2 separate regions of the Homo sapiens genome follow, and region 1 is linked to region 2. The links come from fine-mapping of genetic effects on gene expression. A gene starts in region 2. The other region holds a variant in brackets. All regions are shown on one strand. Distances are between the middles of the regions.

Region 1 (5,383 bases), 36 kb after region 2:
TGTTTATCCACTCTTTAAAATCAAGAACCTTCAACTTTGCATAACAATATGAATTTCTGAATTCCGAAGTTGTGGCACTGTTTGGTCAACAGCTGTGCATAGTGACTATTAGGAATAGCAGCCCCCGTTAGGCAGGGCTCCTTCACAGGTTGCCATTATTAATAAATGTGATAGATTACCCCCTGCGCCTCCCAACGCCACCCCCCACCCCCACCATGTTAGGTTGCATTCTGAATTAGATTTAGATGGATACCCTGAATTCCGTTGCATATGACTCCAGGCTGACTTCACATTTTTTCTTTTTTTCTTTTTTTTTTTTTTGAGACAGTGTCTCACTCTGTCGCTCAGGGTAAAGTGCAGTGGTGAGATCATAGCTCACTGCAGATTCTATCTCCTGAGGCTCAAGCAATCCTTCCACCTCAGCCTCCTGTGTAACTGGAACTAGCACCACCATCCCCATCTAATATTTGTATCTGTTGTAGAGACAGGGTTTTGCCATGTCTCTACATGCAGGGGGGTGAGCTCACTGCAACCTCCACCTCCCGGGTTGAAGCGATTCTCATGCCTCAACCTCCCGAGTAGCTGGGATTACAGGTGCCCACCATCACATCCACCTAAGTTGTGTATTTTTAGTAGATACAGGGTTTCACCACAGTGGCCAGGCTTGTCTCCAACTCTTGACCTCAAGTGATCTACGTGTCTTGGCCTCCCAAAGTGCTGGGATTACAGGGGTGAGCCACCACACCCAGCCTAGTGTGCCTTTCTATGGCTGTTGACTTTGAACAAGTTAAAGATCTAAGTGTGAGCTTAATTGTTTTCTCCAGCTTCACAAAAAGATAAGACTCTAAGTGCTAGGCTTCGAGTGAATCTGTAGTGTGCACATTTCTACAACCTCAGTGTGGCTCCAGTGGGAATTGAGCCGAATCTAAGCACTAAATAACCCTAATGATACCAAGTAGGAGCTCATCAGGGAGCTGTTGAAGAGTTTGTCAGAGCTTATTAAAATACAATACATTCACATAATCAAAAAAGGTACATCAGTCCATCTGTCTATACATTCCTTTCTGATATTAAATTTGTCCAGGGACTTTTCAAAATTACATCACCTATCCCTACCCCTTTCTTTGTGAATAAAAATGTGGCAAGAATGGAGAGCAAATCAGAATAATGCACGTTGGTGAAAGTCCTATAATTGAAATCATTATTGCTTAAGACACCATTGCTTTAATCAGCCCTATCATAAATCAATGCTTTTCACAAGTGAAGGTTTAAAATAAAATGCTGTTAAACAAATTGGGCCTCTTAAAAGGCATGATGCAATTGGGAAGCTACGGAAAATGGATAAAAAAGCGCTTTCTGAATGGATTCACTGGTTCCAGCATTTTGTCTTCCACTTAATTTAAAAAAATATATTACCTGGTCCTTTCTTAGAAATTACATATTGGAGGTCTATAATGGCCAAGCCTTTAACCCATTAAAAAAATTTTCTCCCAGGGAACAGTTAATATTTGACGTTTAATTGCTTTTTCTTGTTGGAGAGGAAAATGGTTTTTTTCTTCTTTTCTTGATTGACTTTTCAAAAATCACCTTGTGAGCTATAAAAATGGAGATGATTTTCAAAAACTGCGGTACACATCTGTGTGTATGCAAGCATATATGTGTTCATGTATAAATAAAATCTCCCATGTACCAGAAGCTGGTGCTTCCCTCACAATAACTCTGCAAGGCAGGTGTGACTATCTCCACGTACTGAATTAGGTGGCAGAGGTCTAGAGAGGTGAAATGATTGCCTGGTGTCACTCAGGTAGTAAGTGGAGCAGGGGGTGGCTTGACCACAGAGCCAAGGAAAAAGGTCATGCCAGTGGTCCCCATCTTGGAGTGCAAATCCTCTCAACCTCTTTAGCAAGCGCCAGATTCAGGAATATAGCAGGTAATCCACACCACCAGCAAAAGTCAAAAGAGCCCAACTCTCATCTTTTCTAAGCATTTTAATGTGAGTCCTTCATGGTAATTAAGGTAGGAGAAGCCGTTGAATCAGCCCTATAAATCATGTCCACCTGGAAGAGAGTTCTTATTCAGGGATTTGTGTGAATAAGCAGGGAGGCTTTGGGAGGCTGAGGCGGGTGGATCACGAGGTCAAGAGATCGAGACCATCCTGGCCAACATGGTGAAACCCCATCTCTACTAAAAATACAAAAAATTAGCCGGGCGTGGTGGTGGTGCGCGCCTGTAGTCCCAGCTACTCGGGAGGCTCAGGCAGAATTGCCTGCACCCAAGACGCGGAGGTTGCAGTGAGCTGAGATCATGCCACTGAACTCCAGCTTGGGCAACAGAGGGAAACTCCATCTCAAAAAAACAAAAAACAAAAACCAGAAAATAAAAAAGTAAAAAAAAACAAAAAACAGGGAGGTCACTGTTTTCTTATTAGAACAGTGCTCATACAGACATCAGATGAATTTTGGGGCCTCCCCAGGAACTGTTTTAAAAGAAAGAGGGGGCCAGCCAGACATTGGTGTGGAGAAGGTGAGGAAAAGCCTCCATTTGGTTGCCTAGAATTAGAATATTTCCAAGTCAACACTGTCAATCTCCCCACTCTGACATGCAGTAAATCCAGTACCCACAACTAAAGTGTTTTCTTGCTTTCTTTTTCTTTTCTTCTTCTTCTTCTTTTTTTTTTTTTTTTTTTTTTAGACAGAGGGAGTCTTGCTCTGTCATCCAGGCTGGAGCGCAGTGGTGCAATCTCGGCTCATTGCAACCTTCCGCCTCCCCAGTTAAAGCAATTCTCCTGCCTCATCCTCCCAAGTAGCTGGGGTTACAGGCACCCGACACCACGCCTGGCTAATGTTTTGTTTTTTTAGTAGGGACGGGGTTTCACCATGTTGGCTGGGCTGATCTTGAACTCCTGACCTCGTGATCTGCCTGCCCTGGCCTCCCAAAGTGCTGGGATTCCAGGTGTGAGCCATCGTGCCCAGGGTTTTGCTTTCTTTTCTTTTGTTCCTTCTCTTCCCACAAAACCAGGTATTATTTAAGTCTCTTGAAAAGCTGCACAAACCAACTGTTCCTCCCAGATTATCCCTTTCAGAGCTCAGGTGATAAGCCA[C/T]CTTGGGTTACACCTCCCATGACTTGTGGTCAGATGCGGGCTGTGTCACTCTGCCTTATCCTACCTTACAAGAAAATATCTGTGTGTTGGCCTCACCAGGTCCCAGTTCCTCTGGGAATCGTCCTGTATGCAACATCTTCACAAGAGTGGCAGGCAGTTGAATCTCTGGCCTTCGTGGGACCACTGGACATCTGGCAGAGAACCAGGAAACCACGGTTCCCTTCTGTGAGTCCCTCAGCCGGAAAACTACAAGGTGTGTGACTGTAGGATGAGGCTTTTTGAAAGATGAAGTACGACACTTTGAGAAAGTGTTTGGAAAGAAACTGGCTGATGTCGAATGGAAATCTGAACATTCACAGATTTCTTTTCCTAGATATAGAAACGCAAAAGCTTACATGTACACATTTAAAAAAAATTAAATTATCTTTTCTTTCTTGCCTTCCTTTTTTTCCCCGCTTTTTTTGTTTTTTTTGGTCTTTTTCTTTTATTCCTGGTTAATAGTAATTCCCATTTTTAACCAAGGAGTGGTAAAACTGACACTGTCATATTGCTGATAGGATATATTAGCAAAATCCTTTTGGAAATTCATTTGCAGTGTGCATCAAGGGCCCATAAAAATGTATGAGAACTATGTGATAATAAGGAAACAGGATATGCACTCTTAATGCTTATAAATACATAGGCAAAATATACGTAGTCATACTAATAGGTAATATTTATTGTCTACTTAATATATGACAAGCACAATGCCACATGTTTTACAGGCATTGTCTCATTTATTTTGTACACAGACTTTGTGTGGTGGATATTATTATATCTCCATTTTATAGATTAAAAAAGAGAGGCCTGGGGAGACTAATTGGTTTATTTGGAGTCTAGTGTGAGATTTCAACCCATCCTAATTGATTACAGAGCTTACACTATTAATTTATAATACCTTATCATTCCTCATAATATGTGGTTATAAGTAAAAAACAAACATTAACAACCAAAAAAAAAAAAAAAAACCCACACCAGCAAACAAAAATCAGAGAAGCTCTTCTCTTATAATAACCACATGAGAAAATAGGAAAGCTTAGACTGAGAAAACGGCCAAACCTAAAAAAGCGTATTTGCAACCAGTTAATAAAATGACAGGTAGCCTTCAACACTTAAATGTTTTAAGGTTTTTTTTTCTCTGGATGGGGATTAGACCCTATATGAATGATTTTTGACCAAAAGAATCTAATTGATATTATTCTGCTAATTTAAGGAGTTCAAGGGAACAAGTCTTACATGTAGTTGCAAAGGACTTTGAAAGGACTTTGTCCAGACTTAGGTGAGAATTTTCTTTTGGACTGGGTCCTAGGTTAGTGTTCCTTAACTTTCTTAACTTATATTGTGTGAGAACATAGCTGAAGATATTAATGGAATCTATGGTTTCTCTTTCTCTCTCTCTCCAGAAAAACACATATATTAACATTATTCAACATTTTGCTGTATATATTTTAATTTTATCTTTTTTTCAGGAAACTTTGAAAATTTTAGGTTTATTGCTGGTTTAAGATTTAAACTAAAATTTCCCTTTCTGTTTTGGCTTCCAGAATGTTCTTTATACCTCAGAGAGAGGACTTTCCTTTTTCTAATAATTTTTTTTTTTTTTTTTTGAGACAGAGTCTCGCTCTGTCACCCAGGCTGGAGTGTAGTGGCACGATCTTGGCTTACTGCAACCTCTGCCTCCCAGGATCAAGCCATTCTCCTTCCTCAGCCTCCAGAGTATCTGGGACTACAGGCACACGCCATCATGCCCAGCTAATTTTTGTATTTTTAGTAGAGATGGAGATTTCACTATGCTGGCTAGGCTGGTCATCTTGAATTCCTGACCTCAAGTGGTCCACCTGCCTGGGCCTCCCAAAGTGCTAGGATTCCCAGCATGAGCCACCGCACCTGGCCTGTATCTCTAATAATTTAAATACTGATGCAGTTTCTTCAGAGTGTTGTCTACACCTGGAAAACTGAGGTCGGTAAAGTAAGCAAGTATAATGCATAATTTAGTTTCAATGTTTTCATTAATATGATACCATACCATTGTGAACACTTGTATTTGGTTGCATGGCTAACAACTACCTTTTGGATTTTTCATGTTAGAATGAAAAAAATGCATGGCATACATCACCAAGAATCAAAGGTTGTGCCTGGCAGTGTAATTGACTATGTAATAAAGAGAGAAGCTTTGCTAGGTGAGTGGACAGCATAATGAGAGGCTTTGTTCACATCTGCAGAAATGCATTTTCGTTAAACACC
Region 2 (5,383 bases):
GGATAGGGAGTGAGGGTGGGAAGGTGCCACGAACTGAGCTTGTAGGCATTTTCCAAACGAAAGAGTTGGCCAGATCCGGGTGATGGCAAACCCTTCTCTTAATTAACTCTGATCACTTGTTCGGTTTGGTGACATATATATATGACATATATTCTTTTCAGAGGATAAAGGCCGTTCTGTTTCTGTTTATTCCTTGTAGGGTTAACATTTCACAGGTATGTGGCCTGACATTTTAATTGCCCAAATAAAGCATCTCGGATGCTGAGAAGCAGAAATAGACTTCATCTGATTGTCATGATGCAATTAGAATCAATTTTCCTCAACTTTACCCTCTCTCGCTGGTTTTAGCTAACTCTCCAGCCAACATCCTGCCACACACCCAGTCATGGTGAGAGGGGAAAGACCTCTGCCCACTGATGGACAGGAGGAGGCAGCCGCCCAGCCTCCCCTGTGCACACCCTCTGTACACACATGTAAGCGCACATGTATCAGATGCACATTTGTCAATGTACACAGACAAAGACTTCACCGACTATGCTTCTAGGTCATAGAACAGTTGAGTACGGACTTCATTGTTCCTCAAGTTCCTTTTAAGCATTCATATAGTCATTAAAACGCACCCAGAGATTCTGCCCCAAATGGGAAATAATACTAGTACAGGTCACAAGAACCAAACCCAAGCCATATTCTACCTCAAGAAGTCACTGCAAAAAGAACAACTTCATAGCCTATTGCCATTCTGCTCCATGTGCTAAAATAATTGAGACAGTTGTGTCTTTGAATTCCAGGGTGTCTGGTTTTAAACATCAAACATGTAGAATTGCTCTCAGAACACACTATATTCCAACGCAGTAAACTTGTTGTTTATGACCAGTTAGTGAATTATCATTATTCCACATTTATACAAGAAAATTGTGTCTCCTTTGTACACACTTTGCACCAAGAAAAAACCTCATGCCGGTAAACCAACCAGGTTTGTGAACAATTAAAATATTTTACACAAAAGACGCTGAGCTCCAGGAAAGAAATGAACACATATGAAGAGTAAATTGATGACCACAGAAAACATCCTTGGTAGCTGAAAAAAAAATTGACAGGGTAAAGATATTTTAAAAATAAACCATACATATAATTGACATGCATAGATCACATTTTACATTCAATTCTCTTTACACACATAGGCAGAATATGAGGTAAGGACTAAAGATCTGGGCAGATAGGGGCTGGTTTTTAGGAAAGGAAAAATCTTCTTTAAGCTTCATTCCCGAAACCTCAGCCCTCACTCTTTCTCCGATGAAATCACGTATTTCACTAAAGCTGCAGGTTCTCGGTTTATTTGAAAGTTGTTAAAAAAAAAAAAAAAAGCCCAGCAAACCTATAGTGGACACTGAACTATCATAAACCTGGTGTGTAATAAGATTGCCACAGAATGAAGCCAAGCTGAGAATTTCAGGTTAATTAGAGACACAATATAACTTTCTCCTAAAGAGGATAAGAAGGATGGAAAAGAAATCATTACACAGGAGAAGGTTTTTGGTAGTTGTTGTTGTTTTCCCTTCCAACCTCTATGATTCAGGAATTGCTAATGTTACAAATGTCAGCAGATTCGGGACAAGCTCAGCTGAGATGTGATGAGACTGGGGTTGAGATAGGAAATCTAATGGGCATTCCCATCTCAATAGAGGATGAAAATAATTGATTATAGGGAAATCTTCATCTCACCTCCTGAATGAGACTTCCATAGCAGATTACCTTTTACAAACATGGGAAGGAACAATATCGAGGAGGAAGAGCTTCCCCAGTCCACTTAGAGATTTTTGGAATTTGAAGTATGCGTGATGGCCTTAGATTAAAATGGAATAATTTCCCAACCATATCTTAACAAATTGGAGCCTGCTAGGCAAATGATCACAGGGCTGCCATAAAGTCAGGGGTGTTTCACTCTGTATTTTAGGACTCATTCAGTTATGAAATGCTGTTACAAGGGAGAAAAAAAATCACCGTATGAATTATACTTAATTTTAATGCATAGAAGAAGAGACAAGACTACAGACTGAGAAGAAAAAAGGGCAAAAATATTTTTAAATGTCTTCTCCAGAGATGCTCACTTGCTGTGCGTCTAAGGTTAAAAAGCTCTGAGAAGATAAAATCAATATATTATTGTTGTTTTTTAAAAATCCAACTCAGTCTTTTTTTGCAGATGTAAATTTATTATAATGAGAAGAATGGCAAGCTTTAATTTGCCTAGAGAAAGTTGGGACAACATTTGCCCTAATCTAAAAAAGAAAAGAAAGAAACTCAACACCCAGGAATATAATTTTCTTGCAGAAAGTGGCCTGATGGGCTGTATTTCTTTACAGATTGAATCACAATATGAATACAGACCCCAGCAAATGCCGAGTTTAACTCTGAACTCAGTAGAAACCAGTTCCGTCCTCCAGGATTCATTGAATTCCTCCTTTCCCTCAATCTAGTCCGTGTGTGTTTTTCTCTTCCACCACACTGGAGCTCCATGAATAGGGAAAGGGGCTTCCATTGTGTCCCTCTGAACTTCCAAGTCAATGCAATTTTTAACCACTGGCTTGTGGTACTTTGAAAATCACCAGGGGCTGTCAGAGTTAGGTCCTCTGAAAAATTTACAGTGCTAAATCAGAGCATATGCTGGGAGGGAAAAAATTGCTTAAGATTAGAGCAAGTACAGTATCTGTCTGCCCCCTAGTGTAAGAGTCCTCGCTGCCTAAAATTCAACTTTAAAAGAAAAGGAGCTCTTAAAGGGAAACGACTTTGGACTCACGTAGGCATAGGAGAACGAAACTTCTGTACATTTTAATCTGAATAATTCTTCAGGATTTAAAATTAATTGGCTCTGGCTTGGTTGGACCGTACTCGGATCTCGCCACCTCTGCGTTTCCCGAGTCACTGGCGAAGAGGTGATTTTTTTTTTTTTTTGAACTGGGTTTATGTGCGTCCCCCTCACCCCCTCCTCTCTTTTTCTTTCTCTCTGTCTCTGTCGTCTCTCTCGCTGGCTTTTTAAAAATGAGGAACCGCTCCTTGAATGTTCTGGACAGAGCACAGAATTGCTTCTTAAGTCAGCCCGGCGCGGTTGCAATAGACAGCAAAAAGGTAAACGTTTGCCTGAAATCCGCACGCCAGCTCCACCGCCCCGCCCGATGGTGAGTACCCTTCTCGTCGCGATTCTCCTCCTAGCTTAACCGAGCGCTCGCCTACCCGAACCGTGGCCGAGGGCGCCGGGCTAGGCTTTTCTCCCTCCCTGCCTGCCTGGCTGTCAGTTGCACAAGGTTGCAAAATGAAGCGCAGAGGCAAAGCGAACAGTAAATTCTGATACTTAGTGCGAGCCTAGCAGCTCCTTTGCTAGAAAACCGAGTCATCTGCTGCTTGCAAAACCACGCTTTATAGGACTGGTTTTTAGTTTGCTCTGTGGAAGGAAATGAGTTTGAGGAGACAGGACGAGGAGATAGGAGGCTCCGCAGTCTTAACGCTTCGGTTTAATCATATTTTGGCAGCTTTGCAATTGTATTTTCCCCCCTCCCCCTCCACCATCTCTCCTACCACACACATGTAATAAAATATGGCAATGCATTGAATTGACTCTGATCCCCCCTTCCCCGAACCCCTTAAACCACAGTCCTCGGCATTTCATACACGTTAGCAAACCGATATTTTGAAAAGCCCCAAGTCATCCCCAACCCCACACAGCACAAGCAGAAAAGTGAGAAAGGAAAGAGAGAGAGAAAAAATACTGTAAGTAAACATACCAAAACCATATTTGCCTTGTTCAAGGTCCCAAACCGCTTGCATCTTCCTCCTAAACTGGAATAACTCTCCTTTAGTTTGGCGGGTGAAATAAATGCTTTGTTGGCCCCCTGAAAAGATGTGTCTTTGATAATTAAAGAGAATCTCCTCCTCGGTGTTTATCTAAGCGATTGTGCAAACTGATAAAAAGTAGGCACTAGCCTGCAGGGAAAAAGAGGAAAGGTGAAGGGAGAGATCTTCCACCTCAAGGAAGTGCTTCCCCATGTATTAGGCTCTCTCAGCCTTGGAAAACCCTGCACACTAACTTTAGAGAGACAAGGTTTCAGGGAGCTTTGTACATAGCTGCTGAGGAATGCAAGCCTCGCCTTTAAGAAAAAAAACCCCAAACCGTAGGTAGGAGATGTCTGGAGTGATCCTTGTCTCTCATCTCATTCCTTAGAAGGAAGAGTGCGTTGTTACACCTTGTTTGGGGCTGGAAAGACGAGACTTTAAAAACACCCGTCCAATTGAAAAAAATCTCCCAACTTAATGAGTTTAGTCGGAGGCTGGAGCAAACGGCTCAGCCTCAGCAGAAAACCGCCAACAACTATAGGCGATATTGCAAAGCAAGACGACCCAAGGCACAGCCAAATTCCACTGTTTGGGGTCGAGAGAGATGGAGGCTAATCCTAAAGCAAGTTGGGAAAAAACAGAGGTGGAAGAGGAGGGGGAAAAAGCATCAGCCTCGCAGACTGGCAGACAGGCTTCCCTCGTCCTGGATCAAAGATAGAACTTGAGACAAGAGGGCAACATTTTTCCTAGGAATCCTTTGGAATCCTCATTTTCTACTTTTAACTCAAGTCTCCCCAAGTGATTTTTCCCCCTCTCCCCTGTGGATTTCTGCCTCCCCCCTTTCCGGTCCTTATTCTAGAACTTTCCTGAGGAGGAAATCTATTTCTTTTGGGGGGAGGGGTTCCCCATTCCATGCCTTCAGATAATGAATGCTTCATTCACCCCCTCCCTTTCTCTACTCCCCAAAACGAATAAAGGAAGCAAGAATACGGTAACTAGTGAAAATTGAATATAAACTATGCTGCCTCTCACAGTTTAATACTGTCTTAACTAATGGATTTTTGTTTTGTTTTGTTTTAAGAGAAGAATAATGGGGAAACACGGATCTTTTATTTTAGGAAACTGTTATGGTAAGATGTATGTCAGACTTGACAAATGGAACTAACGCTCTTCGGCTGCTTCTTGTCCTTGTCTTAAACAGGAATTAAGTTAAACACAGTGCTGAATGTTAATTACATGTTTACTGGCTAATGAAAATTACAAATGGTTTTGCCACCTCAAACAATGATGAAAACTCTGAAGACACTGTAATTATATACTTTGAGCAAAATAACTCAGAATATTGATCATAAGAAGTGTAAATCTTTTTTAACTATTCATTAATACCATAAATATGGGCTACAGAAGTTTTTCCTTGCGGTTTGTCTCATCAGTTATACTGAGTGGATGGATGGTGAGGCTCCTCTGGGGAGGAGGTGAACTCATTCTCTTAGTAGAAGGAGGCCACTTGTGTAACTCGGGGGTGCCCCCTCCCTTTCGCCCCCGCCCCCTTCATCCC

Evidence for each region. PIP is the estimated chance that this variant, and not a neighbour inherited with it, causes the effect. A credible set is the group of variants that fine-mapping cannot tell apart.
Region 1: its variant is the best candidate, but not a certain one, in a credible set for the expression of NR2F2-AS1 in nasal epithelium (TOPMed, PIP 0.86).

Annotation. Positions count from the first base shown.
Region 1 is chr15:96,288,600-96,293,982 of GRCh38, reverse strand. NR2F2-AS1 (NR2F2 antisense RNA 1) reads left to right here. Exons shown (of 5, transcript NR_125738.1): 2 at 3,200-3,353. Among named protein-coding and RNA genes, the nearest start is that of NR2F2-AS1, 36 kb to the left of the region's middle. The variant C/T (reference allele first, on the strand shown) is at 3,101.
Region 2 is chr15:96,324,746-96,330,128 of GRCh38, reverse strand. It overlaps NR2F2-AS1 (NR2F2 antisense RNA 1), which reads left to right and starts at 3,011. Exons shown (of 5, transcript NR_125738.1): 1 at 3,011-3,173. It also overlaps a transcript of NR2F2 not described here.